Homo sapiens: one gene and its partners. The protein of the gene in region 5 purifies or fractionates together with the protein of the main gene of each other region. This does not show direct contact. Each region holds a gene or a part of one and is shown on either strand. Other genes may lie near its edges. The genes, in order: CALU, SUCLA2, USP5, TXNDC5, BCL2L14, COPB1 and GCDH.

Evidence for each region.
Region 1: the proteins of BCL2L14 (region 5) and CALU purify together in Homo sapiens (affinity purification with mass spectrometry; one large-scale study listed by BioGRID and IntAct). This does not show direct contact.
Region 2: the proteins of BCL2L14 (region 5) and SUCLA2 purify together in Homo sapiens (affinity purification with mass spectrometry; one large-scale study listed by BioGRID and IntAct). This does not show direct contact.
Region 3: the proteins of BCL2L14 (region 5) and USP5 purify together in Homo sapiens (affinity purification with mass spectrometry; one large-scale study listed by BioGRID and IntAct). This does not show direct contact.
Region 4: the proteins of BCL2L14 (region 5) and TXNDC5 purify together in Homo sapiens (pull-down; one large-scale study listed by IntAct). This does not show direct contact.
Region 6: the proteins of BCL2L14 (region 5) and COPB1 purify together in Homo sapiens (affinity purification with mass spectrometry; one large-scale study listed by BioGRID and IntAct). This does not show direct contact.
Region 7: the proteins of BCL2L14 (region 5) and GCDH purify together in Homo sapiens (affinity purification with mass spectrometry; one large-scale study listed by BioGRID and IntAct). This does not show direct contact.

The regions. Positions count from the first base shown.
Region 1 is NC_000007.14:128,745,859-128,749,358, forward strand, and holds part of CALU (calumenin isoform a precursor), read left to right. Parts: intron 1-1,694; exon of another isoform or gene 1,695-2,496; coding exon of another isoform or gene 2,497-2,509; intron 2,510-2,714; coding exon of another isoform or gene 2,715-2,725; coding exon 2,726-2,946; intron 2,947-3,500. UniProt on the Homo sapiens protein: Involved in regulation of vitamin K-dependent carboxylation of multiple N-terminal glutamate residues. Seems to inhibit gamma-carboxylase GGCX. Binds 7 calcium ions with a low affinity.
Region 2 is NC_000013.11:47,991,274-47,994,773, reverse strand, and holds part of SUCLA2 (succinate--CoA ligase [ADP-forming] subunit beta, mitochondrial precursor), read left to right. Parts: intron 1-3,500. UniProt on the Homo sapiens protein: ATP-specific succinyl-CoA synthetase functions in the citric acid cycle (TCA), coupling the hydrolysis of succinyl-CoA to the synthesis of ATP and thus represents the only step of substrate-level phosphorylation in the TCA.
Region 3 is NC_000012.12:6,855,150-6,858,649, reverse strand, and holds part of USP5 (ubiquitin carboxyl-terminal hydrolase 5), read right to left. Parts: intron 3,296-3,500; exon of another isoform or gene 3,250-3,295; coding exon 3,124-3,249; intron 3,022-3,123; exon of another isoform or gene 2,896-3,021; coding exon 2,829-2,895; intron 2,634-2,828; coding exon 2,500-2,633; intron 2,346-2,499; coding exon 2,200-2,345; intron 1,944-2,199; coding exon 1,759-1,943; intron 1,022-1,758; coding exon 927-1,021; intron 227-926; coding exon 33-226; intron 1-32. UniProt on the Homo sapiens protein: Deubiquitinating enzyme that participates in a wide range of cellular processes by specifically cleaving isopeptide bonds between ubiquitin and substrate proteins or ubiquitin itself.
Region 4 is NC_000006.12:7,881,017-7,883,902, reverse strand, and holds the end of TXNDC5 (thioredoxin domain-containing protein 5 isoform 1 precursor), read left to right. Parts: intron 1-636; coding exon 637-759; 3' UTR 760-2,386; downstream 2,387-2,886. UniProt on the Homo sapiens protein: Protein disulfide isomerase of the endoplasmic reticulum lumen involved in the formation of disulfide bonds in proteins. Can reduce insulin disulfide bonds.
Region 5 is NC_000012.12:12,084,439-12,087,938, forward strand, and holds part of BCL2L14 (apoptosis facilitator Bcl-2-like protein 14), read left to right. Parts: intron 1-2,774; coding exon 2,775-2,948; intron 2,949-3,500. UniProt on the Homo sapiens protein: Plays a role in apoptosis.
Region 6 is NC_000011.10:14,475,812-14,479,311, reverse strand, and holds part of COPB1 (coatomer subunit beta), read left to right. Parts: intron 1-2,296; coding exon 2,297-2,393; intron 2,394-3,366; coding exon 3,367-3,500. UniProt on the Homo sapiens protein: The coatomer is a cytosolic protein complex that binds to dilysine motifs and reversibly associates with Golgi non-clathrin-coated vesicles, which further mediate biosynthetic protein transport from the ER, via the Golgi up to the trans Golgi network.
Region 7 is NC_000019.10:12,894,160-12,897,329, forward strand, and holds part of GCDH (glutaryl-CoA dehydrogenase, mitochondrial isoform a precursor), read left to right. Parts: exon of another isoform or gene 1-752; intron 753-1,832; coding exon 1,833-1,962; intron 1,963-2,045; coding exon 2,046-2,262; intron 2,263-2,750; coding exon 2,751-2,854; intron 2,855-3,143; coding exon 3,144-3,170. UniProt on the Homo sapiens protein: Catalyzes the oxidative decarboxylation of glutaryl-CoA to crotonyl-CoA and CO(2) in the degradative pathway of L-lysine, L-hydroxylysine, and L-tryptophan metabolism. It uses electron transfer flavoprotein as its electron acceptor. Isoform Short is inactive.

The DNA of each region.
Region 1 (3,500 bases), on a different chromosome or scaffold from region 5:
GCAGGATACAGTATTAAAGTTCACTTTCACACCAATCTTACCAGCCCACCCCATTCCTGTCTCTTCTCCCATGAACCTTGAGGTTACCACTGTTTACACATGGGTATTTGTCTTTGCACACCATTTATGTGCATGTTATATTTTATACAAATAAAAACAAGCTGGGGAGATTGTTTAATTTTGTTTTGCTTTTTATGTAAATGAGATCTTGACGTTGTTTTGAACCTTGCTTTTTTTGTTCACTTGACATATCTTGGTGAATTTTCCATTTCACTGCAGATAGATGCATCTCGTTCTTTTTTTTTTTTTACATTCTTTTTTTTGAGGAAGGGTCTCGCTCTGTCACTGAAGTGCAGTGGTGAGATCTCAGCTCACTGCAGCCTCTGCCTCCCGGGTTCCAGTACTTCTCGTGCCTCAGCCTCCTGAGTAGCTGGGACTACAGGCGTGTGCCACCACACCCAGCTAAGTTTTGTATTTTTAGTAGAGACAGGGTTTCACCGTATTTCCCAGGGTGGTCTCGAACTCCTGACCTCAAGTGATCCTCCCGCCTCGGCCTCCCAAAGTGCTGGGATTACAGGCATGAGCCACCATGCCTGGCTGCTTTTTTTATTTTTTTTGAGATAGGATCTCTGTCACCCACGCTGGAGTGCAGTGGTACAATCTCAGCTAACTGCAACCTCCACCTGGTGGGTTCAAGCTATCCTCCCACCTCAGCCTCCTGAGTAGCTGAGACTACAGGTGTATGCCACCATGCCCAGCTAATTTTTGTATTTTTAGTAGAGACAGTGTTTCGCTATCACCCAGGCTTGTCTTAAACTCCCGGATGCAAGTGATCCGCCTGCATTAGCCTCCCAAAGTCTTGGGATTACAGGCGTGAACCACCACCCCCGGCCTCATGTCATTCTTTTTTTTTTTTTTTTTTTTTTTTGAGACGGAGTCTCACTCTGTAGCCCAGGCTGGAGTGTAGAGGTGCTATCTCGGCTCACTGCAAGCTCTGCCTCCTGGGTTCACGCCATTCTCCTGCCACAGCCTCCCAAGTAGCTGGGACTACAGGCACCCACCACCACGCCCGGCTAATTTTTTGTATTTGTAGTAGAGACGGGGTTTTACCGTGTTAGCCAGGATGATCTCGATCTCCTGACCTTGTGATCCACCCGCCTCGGCCTCCCAGTGTGCTGGGATTACAAGCATGAGCCACTGCGCCCGGCCCATTCTTTTTAACCTTTGTGTATTTTTCCATAATCGAGATTTAATATATTTTACCAATTCTCTGTTTTTATTTGTTTTCCGATTTTTTAATCATTGTGAACTGTCATCATTGAACATCTTAATACAAGTATCTTTGTCTGTAAATGTGGGTATTTTGATGGGATTGAATGAAACAATGTTGAGAAACATAGCCAAGTTCTAACATTGATAGGAATAGAGTAATAAGTACCATCTTCTACCCATTTCTCTATGGGTTTCATGGTCTTGCTTTCACATTGCTTCTTCTGATGGATTTTCCTAAGTCTTAACCTTCACGTCATCAGTAACAGTACCTTATTTGAGACTGGGGCACTTGGGAATGACTGCCCCCCAACCCCCGCCCCCATTATCTCCTTAGGTACTTTTCTGTTTGTCTTACTGTGTTGTCGTATTTACTCTAGAACACTTTCCACTCTCTACTGATATGTCCTCCTCTGCCATTTCAGGACCTCCCACCCTCCCCCACTGAGCTGCCTTCCCAGTGATGAAAGAAAAAATGTAAAAGCCTGAAAACCCTTCTTCTTGATTTTTAATTTTTTTTTTTCCCTCTAAGACCTTAACCACTCTGGATAGTATCACGGGGTATCAGTAGAGTGTGCTAAACAGATGTGTACTCTGCAGCTTCTTTGCAGGTTTTTTGTCACATTTTTCAGTCAAGTGTTCCAGCTTTGTGCTTGTTCATTAGAGTCACCTGTGACTACAGAGATTCTGAAAGTTTGAATCAGGGCCTGGGAATCTGTACTTTGAACAGTACTACAGGTGGTATTTATGCCTAGGCAAGTATGGGAAACAACTGTGCAGAAGGATAAAGACGTTCTTATCTATGACTAGACCATCTGAATGATTTGGCCTTTGAAGGTGACTCAAGGTTGAGCCTGGATGTTGGAGACTTGGTGCTATAGACCAAGGAAGCTGCCAAGTATTTCGCTGGTTCCTAATCTCATGAACATCAGAATCACCTGAAAAACATTTAAAGCTACGAATGTCTGAATTCAGCTTCAGAGACTCTAAATCAATAGGAGAAACTTAAAGCTTCCTAGATGATTCTAATAACCAGCCATGTTTGAAGACCAGACCACCAATGCGTACAAGAAGTAAAGGATTTGGAGTCAACATTTAAACCTTGGTTCTTTCACTTTTAATTCTTATGAACTTGGGCAAAAGGATTAAAATTCTACTTTGGTATCTTTTGAAAGAAAACAGAAAGTGGACATTTTAACTATAAGTTTCTTATCAGCCTACAATCAGATGAAGGAAACTGGTAAAAATTTCTCACTGTAATAATTGAAGAGTCTGATATTCCACCATACTTATTTTATGGATGAAGTAATATTTGGGATAATATAAAAGACTTGCATAGATATGTATATCAAATTAATAGTTTAACTCGGATGTGAGCTTTTAATTTCTTATTTAGTTATTAAGCATACTGCCTCCTGAATTAACTGCTTTTCATTTTCTTCAAGATCTAATTATCATGGACCTGCGACAGTTTCTTATGTGCCTGTCCCTGTGCACAGCCTTTGCCTTGAGCAAACCCACAGAAAAGAAGGACCGTGTACATCATGAGCCTCAGCTCAGTGACAAGGTTCACAATGATGCTCAGAGTTTTGATTATGACCATGATGCCTTCTTGGGTGCTGAAGAAGCAAAGACCTTTGATCAGCTGACACCAGAAGAGAGCAAGGAAAGGCTTGGGTAAGGTACCACCTCTCAGGGGTCTAGTGTGGGTAATGACATTCTTTATAAAGGCTAATTCTTTTCTTTTCTGGCTCAGTTATGAGTAAAGTTATATTGAACTATTAATACATCTTCTGAAAGCTAACCATGGAATTACTACCTCTAAAATTTCATTAAATGCCTGATTTCATACATTTTTAATTGAATAACAGTTGGTGCCTCATTCTACAAAGCATCATTTTTGCATAAAAGTACCAAGTACTGCAAGACCCAACTTGAACTGCATTATCTTGCTACCAGAAGAACATAGCATGGGGGGATTTCTCATCTCTTCTCATCTCTACTGCTTTTAATTTTTAAAAACTATCTGTGCCCTACTGACCTGGCACAAGCCAAGTCTTTGATGGGCTAATAAACGGCACATTGGATCCCTATAAAGTTTATGATTTCCCGAGGTGTCCTTCACCCTCTTTATTTTCATTCTCAGATATTTGTTTAATTAAAAAACAAAAATCAAACCAACTTTGTCTTTTAGAAAATTGTAACTTAATGTCTGAGTATGAGTTACTGTT
Region 2 (3,500 bases), on a different chromosome or scaffold from region 5:
TGGAACAGATACCTTGTTCATTTAGAAAGTGTGTTTTTTGTCAAAGAATATTGCAAATGATGATTATAGTGTGGGAGGGAGACTAATAATTAACAAGGAAATTTAAATCTAGAGGAGCAGAAATGCTAGTTTTTAAAAGATAAATTTAGAAACGTCTATGAAAATATGGAGGACAATTTCGTGGTTTTTTTTTTTTTTTTTTTTTTGAGACGGAGTCTCACTCTGTCGCCCAGGCTGGAGTGCAGTGGCGCGATCTCGGCTCACTGCAACCTCCGTCTCCCAGGTTCAAGCAATTCTCCTGCCTCAGCCTCCTGAGTAGCTGGGATTACAGGTGCCCGCCACCATGCCCAGCTAATTTTTGTATTTTTAGTAGAGACGGGGTTTCACCATGTTGGTCAGGCTGGTCTCGAACCCCTGACCTTGTGATCCACCCGCCTAGGCCTCCCAAAGTGCTGGGATTACAGGCGTGAGCCACCGCACCCAGCCCAATTTTGTGTTTTTAGTGAGTCATTGATAACAAAAGATAACGATTATGGGATCTAGTTGCACAAGGTGTAGAATGAGGGACCTTAGAAATACACTTGGTTTTGTTCATGTAGCTAGCAATTCCCAATGCTGAGTTTTCATTACTTCAGGGTGATTTTTGCTTTTTGACTTTCTGCAAAATTCATAAAATGCTAATTTTCATTTCATAAAAACTCTTTTTTTTTTTTTTGAGACGGAGTTTCGTTCTTGTTGCCCAGGCTGGAGTGCAATGGCGCCATCTCAGCTCACCGCAACCTCCGCCTCCTGGGTTCAAGCAACCTCTGCCTCCTGGGTTCAAGCAGTTCTCCTGCCTCAGCCTCCTGAGTAGCTGGGATTACAGGCATGTGCCACCACCCCGGCTAATTTTGTATTTTTAGTAGAGACAGGGTTTCTCCATGTTGATCAGGCTGGTCTTAAACTCCCGACCTCAGGTGATCCACCTGCCTCACCCTCCCAAAGTGCTGGGATTACAATAGGCGTGAGCCACCAGGCCTGGCCTTCATAAAAACTCTTAACTCAGCGCTTTGCTCAACAAGTGACATAATAGAACATAAATGCTTTACAGGTGTGCCAAACTATTGTTTCTTCCCAGTCCTGTGGTGGCAGGAGAAGTTGAGTTAGCATGGGGTTTGGGGCCACTGAGCCTCTTTACCCAGTATTTCCTACCATGTCCATCATTTTCTGTTTGTGTGATGATGTGAAAAAAGTTGAGAGGCATTGTCCTGTAGGCAAGTTTTACCTGCTGTGAATAATTGAGGTTAGGAATGGAGGAATGGTTAGAAAGAAATCTAATTCTAATATTTTAAAAGACTATATGAGTCCCCAAAATGAAGGTTGGTGAGCTTGAAGATCATGAAGTTTCTGGAATAGATTATCAAAGGGATGGTTATTAGCACAGATAAATGTAGTAGATATTATTTGGGGTCAGTTCTGAGAGCAAATTATCTCTAACAGTTCATAGTTCAAGGAAATATGATTTTAGTAAGGGTTTGGCAGAATGTTTGTTGTTTTGTTTCTGAGACAGTGTCTTGTTCTGTCACCCAGGCTGGAGTGCAGTGGTGTGATCATGGCTCATTGCAGCTTCGACCTCCTGGGCTCAAGCCACTTCTCCCGTCTCAGCCTGCTGAGTAGCTGGGACTATAGGTGTGCTCCACCATGCCTGGCTAATTTTTGTATTTTTTCTTGAGATGGGGTTTCACCATGTTGCCCAGGCTGGTCTCAAACTCCGGGGCTCAAGCCTTCCACCCACCCTTGGCTTCCCAAAGTGCTGGGACTACAGGCGTGAGCCACTGCGCCTGGGCACAGATTTGGCAGAATTTTTATAATTTCCCTATTGACTATAGAAAGATAGTTTGGCTTCTAGTATATTTAAGGTGGAATCCCTATCTGGTTGAATAGATACATGTAAAGGGTGCTGATTAATGAATGTCAGCCCGGAGGGAGATTTCTAATGGCATATAATAGGACTTTACCTTCTTTCTTTCTTTTAAATATTTATTAGTTAGATACCTGTATACAAGGAATGCTTAAAATGTTTGTGAGTGACTAAAGGTAGCTGGGATAGTGATTGTGTTTTAGAGACAGTCTTGGGATCCAAAAAAGATCTTGTCTGACTAGAGCAGTGCCAAATGTAATAAGACTGCAGGTTCTATGAGGGCAGGAGAGGTCTCACTCACTGTTGTATCTACAACGCTAGCACAGTGTCTGGTATGTAGATGAACCTGTTGAGTGAATTAATGGAATTGAATAAAATGTTTGTTTCGACCAGTTGTCCTCAGACTTCTCTTCTAATCTTTCTTCCTTTCTTGATAGTTGATGAGACTGTATTTCATGAAAAATTTTTTTTTTTTTTTTTTTTTTGCTTTCGTTGTGAAGGGCTTTTTTTTTTTAGAAGGAACTTTCGAAGAATCATCTTTTGCCCTTAAAGACTTTATATTCCTAAAGAAAGGAAATTGACACTTTGCGGGGAAGAGAAGAACCTTCTGTCTTGCCAAGTGTTTTTGAAAAAATAGAGCTTCGTTACTCTTAATAGGTCAATGTGTTAAGTTCCCAGTTTAATGAATAGGAATGATTGAATTTAGCTCAGTAAAGCACAGTGTAACTATGACCATTTTTTACATTACATTTGCACTGTTTGCCTTGTAGTTCTCTTCTTCGGATATAAACAAATATTTAAAGTGCTGGAAAATCAGGACTGGACAGGTAAACAGAAACAAGTGGAATAAATAGTGGCTGCTCCCTTCCGTTTGGGCACAAACTCTCTAATTTGCCATGGTTCAGAGACAACCTGTAGTATTCTCAATAAGAACGTTATTGTTGGTTTTAAGGAAATTTCTGAGTTGTTTCTATTTGTTACCTAATATTAGTTGTGATACATTTGTGAATAGTAGAGACAGGGTAATTGAAAAGGGTTTGTCTTATCTAAACAAGATACTTTTTCTAATCAGCTCTAGTTGTAGTACTGTGCACCCAGTTTTTCCCATTGGGAGTTTTCGTAAGAGCAGTGAAGAAATCTAGATTTATAAGAATTCTGTTCATATTTTTAAATGTTCCTTTTTTTCAACATTCAGCAAAATATTATGTGCTAGGAACTCTCCCAGACGCTTGTTAACATCTATGAATACAACAAAGATTCTGCCCTCCTGGGCCTCTTTTCTGATGGGGAAGCAAAACAACAAATGATATATGTAAGAGAATTACATATGTACGAAGATGATGAATTCTATGGCGGAAAGAAGTGTAGTAGGTAAGGGGGATTGGTCACAGGTGGGCAGGTTAGTAGGGTAAGCTTCATGGGCAACATGAGATTTAAAGAGAAACTTGAAGGATCGGGGGCTTTTCCCACATGGACACCTGGTGAAGAGTATTCTAGGCAGAGGGTGCATTAGAGCCAAGTCCTGAAGGCAGGAACATGCCCAGGAATAGTGAGGGGATTAGTGCAGTTGGAACAGAGTGAGCAACCAGGAGGGCCTAGG
Region 3 (3,500 bases), 5.2 Mb from region 5:
GGGGGCCTGGGGAAGGAGAGGGCACTACTCACTTCCTCTGGAAGTCAGGGATGCTGAAGAGCACCTGGACCACAGAGTTGAGGTAGCAGCTGTTACCCAGGTTCCGGATGCCTGTGTAGCCAGGCCCAAACAGGGGCTTGAGTGGCACACCTGACTCCTGGATCAGCTCCCATTCACCAATCCGCTGGTTCATGTCTATCTCCAACTCAGTCATCGTCTTGTCTGTCTGTGTGAGAAGGGGCACTTCAGACTGAGTGAGAAACTCAACCCTGTAGTTTTTACCTCGATCTCTCACTGAGTCTAGGATGATACTCAACTGTGGCCTAGAATTTGTGGAATTACAGGCTCAAACATGGGAGGTATGTTGAGTATCGTCCAGTTCAAGTTCTGGAAGGCCACACATAATTGTCCCAGAGGCCCGTTAGTCATCAGGGCCTCTGCTTGAATGAGGAATAAAATTTCCTTCTACCTGAAATGTTTTTCCCATCCTTAAGTTACCCCTAACCTCCTTCACATTGTCAGTTAAGCATCGCTTCCTCAGGGAAATGTCCCTGATCCCTAAACTAGGCCAGGCCACCCTGCTGTCAATTACTGTAGTACCCTCCGCCTCTCTTTCACAGTGCCCACCAGTTTGCAACTATTCACTTATTTATCTGGGAATGTGACTAATGTCTGCCTTTTCTTCTAGAGTAGAACTCTTGTAAGCAAAAACCACATCTGTCTTATTCACACAGCCTCTAGCACATAGTAGGTACTCAGTACTATTCACTGAATAAATGATTTTAGATATTTAAAAGAAGCCTGTGTATCTTGGGGATGGGGTTAACTAGAAGATTTCTCCAAAACCCTACCTCAGCCTCAGGCAAAGAGGAAGGGCCCTCACAGGGGCAGGAAGTAGAAGAATCTGAAGTTGAAGGGGGTCTCACCTTCTGCATCTTCAGCATGTCGATGCCGAAGTGGGACAGGTGCTCAGCCAGGCTGGGGTCCAGGACCATGTCATCCTCATCATATGAGTACACGTCTAGAGCAGGAGGCAGGAAGAGAATCAGGGGAAGTGGCTCAGGACTAGCCAGGCCACCATCCCATCCCTTGCACAGAAGGGACTTGAGGGGACAGAAGGAGAGCCAGTAAGGTCCACCCTCTTGGTTCCCTTGAATATGAGTAATATGAGTGCGGTCATGGCCCTTCTGGGGCTGACGGTCAGGGAAGACAGATGAAACCGGGTGAGGGTTGGAATTACTTGTGATTCTGATTCTACCTGTATAGGATAAGGTAAGACAGGCTTGGTAGGAAAGGGATGAGGATTTGAGTGGGGAGTAATCAAAAATTTAGTCTCATCTGCAGTATTTTCCTTTTTTGAGACAGGGTCTCTGTAGCCCAGGCTGGAGTCCAGTGGTGCAATCATAGCTCACTGCAGCCTCAACCTCCCGGGTGCTCAAACAATCCTCCTGCCTCAGCCTCCTGAGTAGGTGAGACTACAGGCAGGAGCTACCACACCCAGCCAATTTTTCTTTTTTTTTCTTTTTTGGAGAGATGAGGTCTCACTATGTTGCCCAGGCTGGTCTCGAACTCCTAGGCTCAAGCAATTCTCCTGCCTTGGCCTCCCAAAGTGTTGGGATTGCAAACATGAGCCACCGCACCTGACTACTTTCCTTTCTTATCAAGATAATGCATTCATGTATTATACATGTCACACGAAATTACTAACAAATGAAATATATTTAAGCATGAGAGTGGCTGGAGGAGGGGAGGCTGTACCAGCTCCATCAGGGGTGATGGTGCCCAGCTTGACAGCTAACGGGTAGCCTGTCTCTCGGTAGTGCTCCACAGCGTGGTTGTTGCCCCCACTGCCATCGAAGTAGCGTCGCCCACAGAGGATGGAGCCATCAGTCAGGTTGAGCCACAGGTTCTCTCTCATGTCACACTTGGAGCACTTCCAGCCACTAACCCACAGAGAAGAGAATCAGCAGAAATGTGGGTCGGGGATTTGAGGGAGTGGCAGAGAGAGAGGGCTCTGCAGGCCCCCCGCCAATCCAAGGTCTCTCTCTCTTCTCCTCTGGCCATCCCCATGTCGTGTTCATTTCCAAGCTTCCCTTCCTGTCCTGCTCCCTACCCTCTCTCCCACCAGATCCCCCAGAAAAGTGGGCTCCTTGTCCTTGCTCTGGGGGTGGTGCCCGAGGCAGAGGGGCCAGGCCTCACCAGGGAGGGATTCGAGCAGGGTTGTCCAACTGCTTGAGGCTGAAGGCATGCTTAGACACCTGCCGTACTTCCCCATCCCATGCCTGCACCTCCTGCTTGCGGGAGGCTGAGTCGGCCGACAGTAGGGCCTCCACTGCACTGGTCACCTGGGGGAAGCAGAGGGTCAGAGGCAATACCCAACCCCCTGCCCCACATGCCCCTCTTCCCCTTGGCCTTCAGCTTTGTCAGTGCTTGCCTAAGACACCACTACCCTGGCCCATCTTGCTCTAGAATCTTGGGTAGCATAGGGGGCAGTCATACCCGATCTCTGACAATGTCAGGCAGTCCCCCCAGTCCATCCCGGGCAATCTCCAGGTAATCTGGCAAAATGACAATCTTCACATCCTCGTCTAATTCAAACTTCTCCTCGCTAAGGTCAAATCCGCCTTCAACACCTGGAAGGATAGGGAAGAAGAGGGAGAGTAGAGCAATGACAACAGGTCAATGTCCCTCCTCCGAGCCAGCACCTCACTTGCCCCATCCAGAGTTCTAGGGCCATCAATCAGGCCCACTCTTTGGGGCTTTCCTGGTGCTGCTGAGAGCCAGAAAGACCAGCTCAGGGAGAAGAATAGGACTGCAGCGGTGCTCACCAATAGCCAGCCGCGTGGGCTTCTTCCGGGGTGGGTCTCCAGTGCCTGTAGCAGGGTCCTCCTCTTTCTGTAAAGAAGCAGGAAGGGCTGGATCAGCAATGAGCACGAGCGAAGGAACAAGTCGGGAGGAGGGACGGAAGGAGGTAGTGCTTCATCTCAGAACGGAATAAAGCTAAAAAACATCTGTGCCAAGCTTTAATGACACAAAAGTAGGTGAAAAAAAGAAACTGAGTCCAATAGGAGGTCAGAATGGAACAGACAATGTACCCAGGCCTTGCCCCAGCCCTGCTCCTACCGGGCGCCGGGTCCGCCGGAGGTGCAAGTAGACTCGCTGGCCGGTCTTATTGAAATGTCTCTCCACATACTGTTTCCCAAAGCCCAGAAACGTGTTCATACAGATGTAGAGGCCCCCCTCAGACTCCTGTGGGACAAGAGGTAAGGGTGAAAACACGAGGATGTTATGAAGCCTGGTCAGGTGAGGAAACCAAAACCTGGAGTCAGAAACTGCTGGGTTCCAGAAGAAATGTTCTGTTCTCTAACACTGTGTGGCCCTTGGCAAGTTATTTAGCCTTTTAGGACCTGGGACATAGCTAAGATTCTCCCCATTTCCTCCCATGACTTTGATAACAACCAACAAGGACATCAGGGGGCTGAGGAACACCAGCTCATCGT
Region 4 (2,886 bases), on a different chromosome or scaffold from region 5:
GGTCCTGTGCTTGGGTTAACTACTGCCTTCATTCCAAGCTGTTAGCACAGTCTGATGGCCTGGAAGATTTGTCATTTTTTTTCTTCTTTGTTATTCAGACACTTTTGGAGCCCTTTAGATGGAGAATAGACGTAACCCAGACATAGTTTCCTTATCATTAAAAGATACCAGTTGTTTTTTGTGCCCTAAAATTCTTAGAAACGAGTTGCCACTGAAACATGTATCCTCAAGAGGATCTTGCTCTCATGGTCTGGTCTGCAGACCACCAGGGCATCGCCAGGGAGGTCATTGGAAATGCAGACTCCCAGGCCTGCTCAATCCAAATCTGCACCTTCAGCAGATCCGCAGGTGATCGTGTGCACAGTAAAGACTGAAAGCGTCTGCTTTAGGGTAAAGTCGTTCCTTTGAGGCTGATCTTTAATGATGTCATTTTGAATTCAGAAGTGAACACACAGCCCCACGGCTGTGCTTTCTAAACAGTAGTCTGCTCCTGTTTTAATGGAATATACACCTTTAAAAATTAGCCACAGAATTTTTCCAGCCACAACGGTAGGAGTGTATCTGGTTTTATTTAGGAAGCAATTTGCATGTGATCTGGACCGCTGGTTTGCAAACTTTTTTCTTTTTTGTTTTAAGGTACGAGGCTACCCCACGTTATTGCTTTTCCGAGGAGGGAAGAAAGTCAGTGAGCACAGTGGAGGCAGAGACCTTGACTCGTTACACCGCTTTGTCCTGAGCCAAGCGAAAGACGAACTTTAGGAACACAGTTGGAGGTCACCTCTCCTGCCCAGCTCCCGCACCCTGCGTTTAGGAGTTCAGTCCCACAGAGGCCACTGGGTTCCCAGTGGTGGCTGTTCAGAAAGCAGAACATACTAAGCGTGAGGTATCTTCTTTGTGTGTGTGTTTTCCAAGCCAACACACTCTACAGATTCTTTATTAAGTTAAGTTTCTCTAAGTAAATGTGTAACTCATGGTCACTGTGTAAACATTTTCAGTGGCGATATATCCCCTTTGACCTTCTCTTGATGAAATTTACATGGTTTCCTTTGAGACTAAAATAGCGTTGAGGGAAATGAAATTGCTGGACTATTTGTGGCTCCTGAGTTGAGTGATTTTGGTGAAAGAAAGCACATCCAAAGCATAGTTTACCTGCCCACGAGTTCTGGAAAGGTGGCCTTGTGGCAGTATTGACGTTCCTCTGATCTTAAGGTCACAGTTGACTCAATACTGTGTTGGTCCGTAGCATGGAGCAGATTGAAATGCAAAAACCCACACCTCTGGAAGATACCTTCACGGCCGCTGCTGGAGCTTCTGTTGCTGTGAATACTTCTCTCAGTGTGAGAGGTTAGCCGTGATGAAAGCAGCGTTACTTCTGACCGTGCCTGAGTAAGAGAATGCTGATGCCATAACTTTATGTGTCGATACTTGTCAAATCAGTTACTGTTCAGGGGATCCTTCTGTTTCTCACGGGGTGAAACATGTCTTTAGTTCCTCATGTTAACACGAAGCCAGAGCCCACATGAACTGTTGGATGTCTTCCTTAGAAAGGGTAGGCATGGAAAATTCCACGAGGCTCATTCTCAGTATCTCATTAACTCATTGAAAGATTCCAGTTGTATTTGTCACCTGGGGTGACAAGACCAGACAGGCTTTCCCAGGCCTGGGTATCCAGGGAGGCTCTGCAGCCCTGCTGAAGGGCCCTAACTAGAGTTCTAGAGTTTCTGATTCTGTTTCTCAGTAGTCCTTTTAGAGGCTTGCTATACTTGGTCTGCTTCAAGGAGGTCGACCTTCTAATGTATGAAGAATGGGATGCATTTGATCTCAAGACCAAAGACAGATGTCAGTGGGCTGCTCTGGCCCTGGTGTGCACGGCTGTGGCAGCTGTTGATGCCAGTGTCCTCTAACTCATGCTGTCCTTGTGATTAAACACCTCTATCTCCCTTGGGAATAAGCACATACAGGCTTAAGCTCTAAGATAGATAGGTGTTTGTCCTTTTACCATCGAGCTACTTCCCATAATAACCACTTTGCATCCAACACTCTTCACCCACCTCCCATACGCAAGGGGATGTGGATACTTGGCCCAAAGTAACTGGTGGTAGGAATCTTAGAAACAAGACCACTTATACTGTCTGTCTGAGGCAGAAGATAACAGCAGCATCTCGACCAGCCTCTGCCTTAAAGGAAATCTTTATTAATCACGTATGGTTCACAGATAATTCTTTTTTTAAAAAAACCCAACCTCCTAGAGAAGCACAACTGTCAAGAGTCTTGTACACACAACTTCAGCTTTGCATCACGAGTCTTGTATTCCAAGAAAATCAAAGTGGTACAATTTGTTTGTTTACACTATGATACTTTCTAAATAAACTCTTTTTTTTTAAAAGTCTGGTCTTTCCTTCAATGTTACAGCAAAACAGATATAAAATAGACAATAAATTATAGTTTATATTTACAAAAAAAGCTGTAAGTGCAAACAGTTGTAGATTATAAATGTATTATTTAATCAGTTTAGTATGAAATTGCCTTCCCAGTACATGATTGTGAAAAAGACATTTAGAAAATATTCTAAAATTTAATCTGAGCCTCACTTTCTACAAGGGAAATCATGATTTCCGTTCATAAACAGCATGCTCATCCCCCTAACACCATTCTTATAAGCTGGGCACCCTCATTTTATTTTCTTCGTTGGTTCTAACCCTGTGGCGTGGTATGCTGTATAGTAAAAAGGCAGAGAACCACTTTACTGAAAAGGTACTAGAGCCGGCAGTCCAGAAGTTAATGTGCTGGTCAAAGAACCGTTCTGGTAAAGAAGAGGTGAGCATTGCCTTCACGTGTTACACGGTTACACACCCCTTGTAGCCTCACCTCAGTGTAATCAGTCTA
Region 5 (3,500 bases):
AGCAGTCCATAAGGAAGTCACACCCCAACCCCCTGCCCTTTCTCTTTAAAACAAATGCCTCAGACCACAGGCGAAATGGGACCTTCCGACCCTGTTGGCCTGCTCTTCCTGGCGCCACGATGACCCCCAAAACAGACTCCAAGGAACAGACAGCCTTTCTGTCTTCTCCCCACCCCATCCAGTGTTCCCTCGCCTATCAGACAGGACCAAGTCTGACAAGGATATAATCTTTTCTTTTTCATGTTTTAAAATTAAAATATCCAAGATGGGAATTTTAACTAGAGCTAGTGCATCTGTGGGAACATGTTTGCTTATAGTTTCTCCTGGACATGTCTCACTCCATGTCCACAAACCCACAGAAATCAATACCCTGCTGTAACCCCAGCACTTTGGGAGGCTGAGGCAGGAGGATCACCTGAGGTCAAGAGTTCAAGACCAGCCTGGCCAACATGGCAAAACCCTGTCTCTACTGAAAATATACAAAAATTAGCTGGACGTAGTGGCGGGAGCCACTACGTCCTGTAATCCCAGCTACACAGGAGGCTGAGGCAGAGAGAATGGCTTGAACCCAGAAGGTGGAGGTTGCAGCGAGCCGAGATCGTGCCATTGCACTCCAGCCTGGGCAACAGAGCGAGACTCCGTCTCAAAAAAAAAAAAAAAAAAAAAGTCAATACCCTGTACACAGTTAGCCAGATTGAGTAATTTTGTACCTGTTGGTGATCTTGTGGCCACCCTGCCTTATGAGAGGAGGAGGGGACAGAGCCTTTGGGACCCTTCATGGAGCTTCTTAATGTGCAAGATGGGCACAGGGTGCTTTCTGGTGGTAGAACCGCATGCTGATTACCCTAGATGAGCTGCACAAGGTTGAAAAGGCAGCAGAGGCCTGCTTTCCTTTCTCATCTCCTGAGGACATGGCCAGGGAAGTTTCCCTTGGCTTTGGAAGATAGCCTCTTGCCATTTCTTTCTTTGCCAGGGGCCATGGGTGGCCAGAGTTCCAGCGGAGGCCGGCTGGGCTGCAATAAGGGGATTACAAAGTGGAAAGTCTGTTTCGCTTGGTTCTTAAAAAACGAGGAGGAAAGACATTGATCCTTTTCTTCTTGATCTTTCTTCTCTCCGTCATTCGCTTCTTATTGGTTTTTGAACCCTGTGGACTAACCATGGAAAAGATGGCTTTATGAGTCAGATGTCCACCAGAGGATGGCATCATGGACAGAGCAGTATCTTCTGTGGCCTTTCCGTGAATGGCTGGAGGGCTGAAGGGAGGACACTGAAGCCTTCAGCTTGGAGGAATCCAGGGAGAGGGATCAGGAGCCACCTTGGCAGCTGCATATGATGTCAAAACCTGTTTCTCTTGTGGCTCAGTCCCTCCCAGGCCCCCTACTTGCCTCTCTTACCTCCAGTGCTGTACAAAGCCCAGAAGTGCCCTAGGAGTTTGAGCACACCAACCTTCTGTCCAAAACGCCACTCCATTACTGTCTTCAAGTCCTGTGAATTACCTAATGTTAGTCTTCAAATGTTACATGGTAAAACCCAGCTGCTCCACACGGCATCCAAGACAGCTTGTACAAGCTTTTAAAAGTTTAGGATTTAGGTTGGGTGTGGTGGTGGCTCATCCTTGTAATCCTAGCACTTTGGGAGGCTGATGTGGGAGGATTGCTTGCGCTTAGGAGTTCAAGAACAACCTGGGCAACATAGGGAGACCTTATCTCTAGAAAAAGAATTTTAATAAATTAGCCAGGCGTGGTGATGCACACCTGTCATCCCAGCTACTCAGGAGGCTGAGGTGGGACAATCGCTTGAGCCTGAGAGATCCAAGCTGCAGTGAGCTGTGATCACACCACTGCACTCCAGCCTGGGTGACAGAGTGAGACTCTGTCTGGAAAAAAGTAAATAAACAAATAAAAGGTTAGAACTTAGTGACAAATCAACAGTGAAAATTTTACCACCCAGCAACTCAGCCATGCCATCTGCCCACCCCACCTCCCCTCTTCCCCACTCAGGGGCAAAGGCGACTGGTCTCTTATAGGCTACAACACTCACTGGGCCAATGCCATTTCACCGTCCTATCTCAAAGTGCTTTATTCTACAATTCTGTATGCAAATACATGACGTAACTCTTTTCTCAGCTTGTAAATTCTTGAAGGCCGTAAGTTGTGCTGACTGCATCCTTGTTTACCTATAAGCATTCATTGAATGTTTTCCAGTAGACATGGAGAGGAGAGAAGAGGCAGAACTGTACCAGCAACGGGAGTTAGGTGTTCACTTGATAATGGACTTGGATGATGAATCTCATTGCCCTGAGAGCAGGGATATTTCTTTCTTCAGTGACCAACCCCGAAATGCTTGTCAAATTATCGAATGTCCTCCTATGCATGTAGGGGCTGGCTCTTAGAGGTATAAAGCATGTCGAGAAAAAAGAATAAAAATAAAAGCATAATGAGCATTCCTTCAAGTAAAGAGCTAAGCACTCCTTTTTGTGTCTCTTCCCTTGCAAAGGGGAAAGGAGACCCTAATTTTGCAAGACTTCAAAAAGAGTGTGCAGAAGGCCAATTGTTTCAAGGTGACAATCATTCCTGCATGCACCCCTCCCACATCCCGGCCTCTGCCAGGCAACTTTCAGTCCTTTCTGAAGAATGACCCTCCCCCAGCACACATACTCCCAGGCAGTTTCCTTCTATTCTGGCCTGGTCTTTTCATTCCAGGCAACTTTGCATACCAATGAGCCAGATGAAGTTCTGGGAAGGGCCTCTCAGCACCATTTTGTCTTGTTTCAGCTGTGGACCCCAAAGTCATTTCCATTGCCAACCGAGTAGCTGAAATTGTTTACTCCTGGCCACCACCACAAGCGACCCAGGCAGGAGGCTTCAAGTCCAAAGAGATTTTTGTAACTGAGGGTCTCTCCTTCCAGCTCCAAGGCCACGTGCCTGTAGCTTCAAGTTCTAAGAAAGGTAAGCTTTCCTTCCCTGGGTGGAGTGTTTGCCAGGCAGGGGCGCAGGAGCATTTGTGTATTTATCCATCCCAGGGCTCGGCAACTTGACAGTCTCCGCTGCCTGGACTGAGGGCTTGACAGCCACAGGCTGTGGGCAATGAGCTCCAGCTTGAGACACCAGCCCAAGGCAAGGGGGCTGCCCCAGCAGGTTGAAAAAACATTCCCAGCTCTCTGCTAAGTAAGAAAGGAAAGTCTCCTACAGAGGGAGAGGAGGAAACACAAAGCCCGCATTCAGCCTTGTCTGTGGCGGAAAATGCAATGTTAGATCTGATCATGTTACCAGTGACCCTGGGCCAATTTGCATCAGGTACAGTTGGAGCGTCAAGCCAGGGATTTATATTATAACATTGCTTTAGGGCTTTGTGAAAAAGCAGGGGTTGTCAGGCACCAGCTATGGTGCAAGACATGGAGCAGAACTGAGAAGTAGTGACAAGGCTGGGTCAGTTGTCACCCAAACCATAGCAATAGCTGAGACTGTAGATCCCATCAGGCTGGTGGTAACTCAAGGCAC
Region 6 (3,500 bases), on a different chromosome or scaffold from region 5:
AGAGCATATTTTTAAATGGCATCACTTTTTGGCTATTACTATTATTTATATCTTCCTTTCACATTTAATGAAGAGAAAGATTGAAAATGCAACCTAAATCTGTCTTTCCCTTCAGAGAGCCTTTGCTAATGAGAAAGGACTGTTGCATCTAAATTTTGCTTCATTTAAAGCATCTGATGGATAGTCTCTAACAGACTTGAAATATGTCTCAGGAAGGAAGGGACAAGTACAAAATTGTTTTTATGATATGAAAATATATTAATATTTATGGAAGTGAGCAGAGCAGGATTTGCTTCCTTTGTGAGAAGAAAATCATATTAAGGATTTGCTTTTTTTTTTTTTTTTTTTTTTTTTGTGAGAGGGCTTTCCGGCAAAAACCAGAAAGCCTGCTAAACAAATTTTAAAAGAGCTATGACATTAAGAATTTGTTTTTGACAGCCATAATCTCTTAGAGCTTTGGTTTCTATAATTAAGTTTTTCTGAATAAATTTAATTAAAATCTTAGGGGAAAGATGACTAAGGACTTTATTCAGTTTAACATTTTAAACTAAAGAATTGTTGGCTGGGTATGGTGGCTCACACTTGTATTCCCAGCACTTTGGGAGGCCAAGGCAGGAGAATTGCTGGATGTCAGGAGTTGGAGACCAGCCTGGGCAACATGGTGAGACTTTGTCTCTATTTATTTTTTTAATCTAAATGAATGAATGAATGGTTGCTTTCTTTACTATTATTTTTTTACTGATCCCTTGTACTTCTTCTGTATCCATTGTTCAGTTCAACACCTTGCCTCTTCAGTGACTGAAAATAAAAAGTGAATTACTTTTTACATTAAAATAATACATTCCTGATTTTTTGTTTTTGTTTTTGTTTTGTTTTTACTTTATTTATTTATTTTTTTAAGAGAGATGAGGGCCTTGCTTTGTTGCCCAGGCTGGTCTCGAACTCCTGGACTAAAGCAATCCTCCCACCTCATCCTCCCCAGATGCTGAGATTACAGGTGTGAGCCACAGTGTCTGGCCATAAAATAATACATTTCTTAGAGTAGTAAGAGATTAAGCCAAATTTGCCTTCACTGTGTCCTAAATGGACACTTTACTGGGAAACATTTTGGTATTTTATTTTTACTGCTAGGTTTACCAGTTTTAGAATGTTCCTAATAATAAGAACAGTTATTTTACTTTTAATCTTTGTGATTTCTGGAGAGAACTGAAACCTAGGTTTTGTTAGATTCTTTCTGAAATATTTATCTAAAATACTTTAGAACTGCAGAATCTTGTTGGTTTTTGTTTTTTGTTTTTTTGTTATTGAGACAGAAGCTTGCTCTGTCACCCAGGCTGGAGTGCAGTGGCGCTATCTCAGGGCATTGCAACCTCCGCCTCCTGGATTCAGGCAGTTCTTTTTTTTTTTTTTTTTTTGAGATGGAGTCTTGCTCTGTCTCACAGGCTAGAGTGCAGTGGCGCGATCTCGGCTCACTGCAACCGCCGCCTCTCATGTTCAAGCGATTCTCCAGCCTCAGCCTCCCAAGTATCTGGACTACAGGTGCGTGCCACTGCATCCAGCAAATTTTTTTTGTATTTTCAGTAGAGACGAGGTTTCACCATGTTTGTGAGGCTGGTCTTGAACTCCCAACCTCAGGTGATCCGCCCGCCTCAGCCTCTCAAAGTGCTGGGATTACAGGCGTGAGCCACTGTGCCCGGCCTCAAGGAGCTCTTATGCCTCAGTTTCCTCAATAGCTGGGATTACAGATGTGCATCACCATGCCTGGCTGATTTTTGTATTTTTAGTAGAGATGGGGTTTCACCATGTTGCCCAGGCTGGTTTTGAGCTCCTGGGCTCAAGTGATCCGCTGGCCTCAGCCTCCGAATGTGCTAGGATTACAGGCGTGAGCCACCGTGCCTGGCCCTTGTTTTTTTTTTTTTTTTGAGACGGAGTCTCGCTCTGTCACCCAGCCTGGAGTGCAGTGGCGCGATCTTGGCTCACTGCAAGCTCCGCTTCCCGAGAATGGGTTCCCGCCATTCTCCTGCCTCAGCCTCCCGGGTAGCTGGGACTACAGGCGCCCGCCACCATGCCCGGCTAATTTTTTTGTATTTTTAGTAGAGACGTGATTTCACCATGTTAGCCAGGATGGTCTCGATCTCCTGACCTCGTGATCCGCCCGCCTCGGCCTCCCAAAGTGCTGGGATTACAGGCGTGAGTGCCTGGCCCTTGTTTTTATTTGAGCTTAAATTAACAAAGAAAGATCTCTGCTTCAAGATTTGTCTGCCAAGTTCATGTTTCAGATCTTGTATTGTGCTAGGATTTACCGAGGAGCATTATGGATCCTGGGAGAATACTGTAGTACCAAGGAAGACATTCAGAGTGTGATGACTGAGATCCGCAGGTCCCTTGGAGAGGTATGTTTTACTTTAGTAAATGTTAGTTTATATGGTAATTTTTCCTTTAGGAAAATCTGACTTTTTATAGTGATTTGCTTACATTATTTACACTTCTGAGTTAGATTTTGTTTGAACAAAATGTTCTGTGTTTATTAAAAAAAAAAAAAAAAAAAAGAAGCAGTAGCTTGTAAAATTCTGCTTTAGCCTGTATTCTGAAGGAAGAATGCCTTAGAGTAAGTCTGACTTCAGAATATTTATGCAGTAAAACTGACAGTATTCTTCATCCTAACAACCTTATGGTAGAATAGAAAGAACAGTGGACTAATTATCAGGAGACCTGACAATTAGTTCTAGTCATTGTTGTGTCGACAGTTAGCTGGAGGACCTTGAATATAAGTTCCTCAACCTAACTTGACATCAGTGTTTTTCACCTATAAAATAAATTAAAATAGGTAATGATTAAATACTCTTAGTGCTCTTATATTAGGTAATGGACTGGTATTGAGTAATAAATACATAATAGCCATTCAGTTAATTTAAAAGTTAGTTGATGAGGTTATTATGTACAAATAAGTCGGATTTATTTCATTTTAGAAGGATGAGTACTGTTTTGGTTAAAATTTCAAGGAAAGGAATGAAGAAGAGGAATACGACTTAATGACCATCTGCTTTGTGTTAGACACTGTCCAATGCATTTTTCTATTAGGTAAAATGTGTAGAAAGAATTAAGATTTCCACTTAGCAGATTAAGAAACTGAGGTCCAAAGTAGTAAGTGGCAGAGTGAGAATTCAAACCCTGGAATATCCATCTCTGAAGCCCCTATTCTACCTACTACATTATCCTGGGAAGGAAATAAATTGAAAGCAGAGTTCCCAGTTCCAAAAATCCCATTAGGGTAATGCCTTTTTTAGAGAAACAATCAAATATTTAAAGATAATTTTGCTTGCTGTTGATACTATTACTAAAATGATGTTTCCAATTGACTTTTAGATCCCAATTGTAGAGTCAGAAATAAAGAAAGAAGCTGGTGAATTAAAACCTGAAGAAGAAATAACTGTAGGGCCAGTTCAGAAATTGGTTACTGAAATGGGTACCTATGCAACTCAGAGTGCCCTTAGCAGTTC
Region 7 (3,170 bases), on a different chromosome or scaffold from region 5:
ACTGGCTGCCAGAAACTCATTGAAGTGGACGATGAACGCAAACTTTGTACTTTTTATGAGAAGCGTATGGCCACAGAAGTTGCTGTTGACGCTCTGGGTGAAGAATGGAAGGGTTACGTGGTCGGAATCAGTGGTGGGAACAATAAACAAGGTTTCCCCTTGAAACAGGGTGTCTTGACCCATGGCCGTGTCCACTTGCTACTGAGTAAGGGGCATTCCTATTACAGACCAAGGAGAACTGGAGAAAGAAAGAGAAGATCAGTTCATGGTTGCATCGTGGATGCCAATCTGAGTGTTCTCAACTTGGTTATTGTAAAAAAAAGGAGAGAAGGGTATTCCTGGACTGACTGAGACTATGATGCCTCGTCACCTGGGGCCCAGTACAGCTAGCAGAATCCGTAAACTTTTCAGTCTCTCTAAAGAAAATGATGTCTGCCAGTATGTTGTAAAAAAGCCCTTAAACAAAGAAGGTAAGAAACCTAGGACCAAAGCACCCAAGATTCAGCGCCTTGTCACTCCACATGTCCTGCAGCACAAACAGCGGCGTATTGCTCTGAAGCAGCCGCATATTAAGAAAAATAAAGAAGAGGCTGCAGAATATGCTAAACTTTTGGCCAAGAGAATGAAGGAGGCTAAGAAGCACCAGGGACAAATCGTGAAGAGACGCAGACTGTCCTCTCTGCGAGCTTCCACTTCTAAGTCTGAATCCAGTCAGAAATAAGATTTTTTGAGTAACAAATAAGATCAGATTCGCAAAAAAAAAAAAAAACCCACAAGGCCCTGTGTGACCAGGCCTCTGCTGACCTTTCCACCTCATCTCTGGCCACTCATGTGATCCTCCCAGCCAGACTTAGCTACTTGAAATTCTCCAGAAGTACCACCAGTTCTTTACACATCTGTTCCCTCTCCCAGCACTGCTCTTCCCCACAGCCTCCTCCTGCTTAACTCCTCACACCCTTCCAGTTTGGCCAACTCCTTCCTGATTCCCTGGGTCCCCCTCCCCATCTTGGCATTGTGATCATGACTTTGGGGTAACCTGTCTCTTGAAAGCAGGGCCAGATCTAACTTAGTTATGAGGTCTGACTCAGGGGCGAGGGTAATTTTTTTTTTCTTTTTTTGAGACAAAGTCCCGCTCCGTCCCCCAGGCTGAAGTGCAGTGGTACAATCTTGGCTCACTGCAACCTGCGGTTCCCCAGTTCAAGCAATTCCTGTGCCTCGGCCTCCCAATTAGCTGGGATTGCAGGTGCTTGCTACCCGTGCCTGGCTAATTTTTGTATTTTTAGTAGAGATGGTGTTTCACTATGTTGGCCAGGCTGGTCTCGAACTCCAGACCTCAAGTGATCCATCTGCCTTGGCCTCCCAAAGTGCTGAGATTACATGTGTGAGCCACCTCGACTGGCCTAATTTTTTGTATTTTTAGTAGAGATGGGGTTTCACCATATTGGTCAGGCTGGATTTTTTTTCTTTTTTGAGATGGAGTCTTGCTCTGTTGCCCAGGCTGTAGTGCAGTGGCATGATCTTGGCTCACTGCAACCTCTCCTGCCCGGGTTCAAGCGATTCTCCTGCCTCAGTCTCCTGAGTAGCTGGGATTACAGGCACCCACCACCACATCTGGCTATTTTTTTTTTTTTTTTTTTTTAAGTAGAGATGGGGTTTCACCATGTTGGCCAGGCTGGTCTGGAACTCCTGACCTCAATTGATCCACCTGCCTTGGCCTCCTAAAGTGCTGGGATGACAGGCGTGAGCCACTGCACCCCGCCACGAGGATAATTTTTGAGTAAGGGGATGTATCAGGGACCAGGCAGCCTTGTGACTTTGTCTTGTGCCTGCAGCCAAGGGGGAGCTCCTGGGCTGCTTCGGGCTCACAGAGCCCAACAGCGGAAGTGACCCCAGCAGCATGGAGACCAGAGCCCACTACAACTCATCCAACAAGAGCTACACCCTCAATGGGACCAAGACCTGGTAAGGGTTCTGGGTGGTGGGCAGGTGGTGAACAGGGGCAAAGGGGCACTGGTCAGACCCCTCACCGACTGTTCCATCCCCAGGATCACGAACTCGCCTATGGCCGATCTGTTTGTAGTGTGGGCTCGGTGTGAAGATGGCTGCATTCGGGGCTTCCTGCTGGAGAAGGGGATGCGGGGTCTCTCGGCCCCCAGGATCCAGGGCAAGTTCTCGCTGCGGGCCTCAGCCACAGGCATGATCATCATGGACGGTGTGGAGGTGCCAGAGGAGAATGTGCTCCCTGGTGCATCCAGCCTGGGGGTAAGTGGCAGCCACTTTGGGAATGGGTGTTGGGTCACCTGCGGATGCGGCTTTGTCAGGCAGGCTCCGTGCTGGGGACGCGGCTCCCTGTGCCTGTGGAGCCCACACAGTGGTGATTCTTACTCAGCCGGACTCGCTGACGTGCTGAAAACTGCCCCCATTTGGTGACCGTCTCGCTCATCCCGGCTCTGCCCGGGACACATGGGCCTGAACCAGCTCAGTCATTTGACTCACAGTGCATCTTCTGGCATCCGTCAGCCTCCTGGCTCTGAGCATCGAACCCAGATGCCAGGCTGGGTGGGACTGTGTGCAAACCGAGTGAGCAGGCACCGAGCTTCAGTGCCAGGGCCATCTGTGATGTGAACCACAACCTGAGTCCCCCTGCGTGGGGTGGCTGGGGAGGAGGCTTTCCCTGCTTCAGAGTTGGTTCTGCATAGGCCCTCTTGGTGTCTCTTGGGTGGGCCTGAGGCGCCATCTCAACCCTACAGGGTCCCTTCGGCTGCCTGAACAACGCCCGGTACGGCATCGCGTGGGGCGTGCTTGGAGCTTCGGAGTTCTGCTTGCACACAGCCCGGCAGTACGCCCTCGACAGGTGTGTGAGGGCTGCAGTGAGATTCTCTGGGGGTGTGGGGCAGCTTGGGTTTCACTCTCTATACCATGGGTGACTCCCCAGCCCCCACCCACCAGGCCTGAGTTCCTTGCTCTGGAATGACCAGTGACGTCCTTCTGAGCAGCTGTGGGCTGAGTCAACGGCAGGGCCAGGGCAAGCTTGGGGGCACTGAGGCAGCCTGGGAAGGCGTCCTGGAGCAGGGGGCCCCAGGACAGGGACGGGGTGGGAGAGTGGGCCTCCCCTCGCTCTTACCCTGCCATTGCCCATGTAGGATGCAGTTTGGTGTCCCACTGGCCAG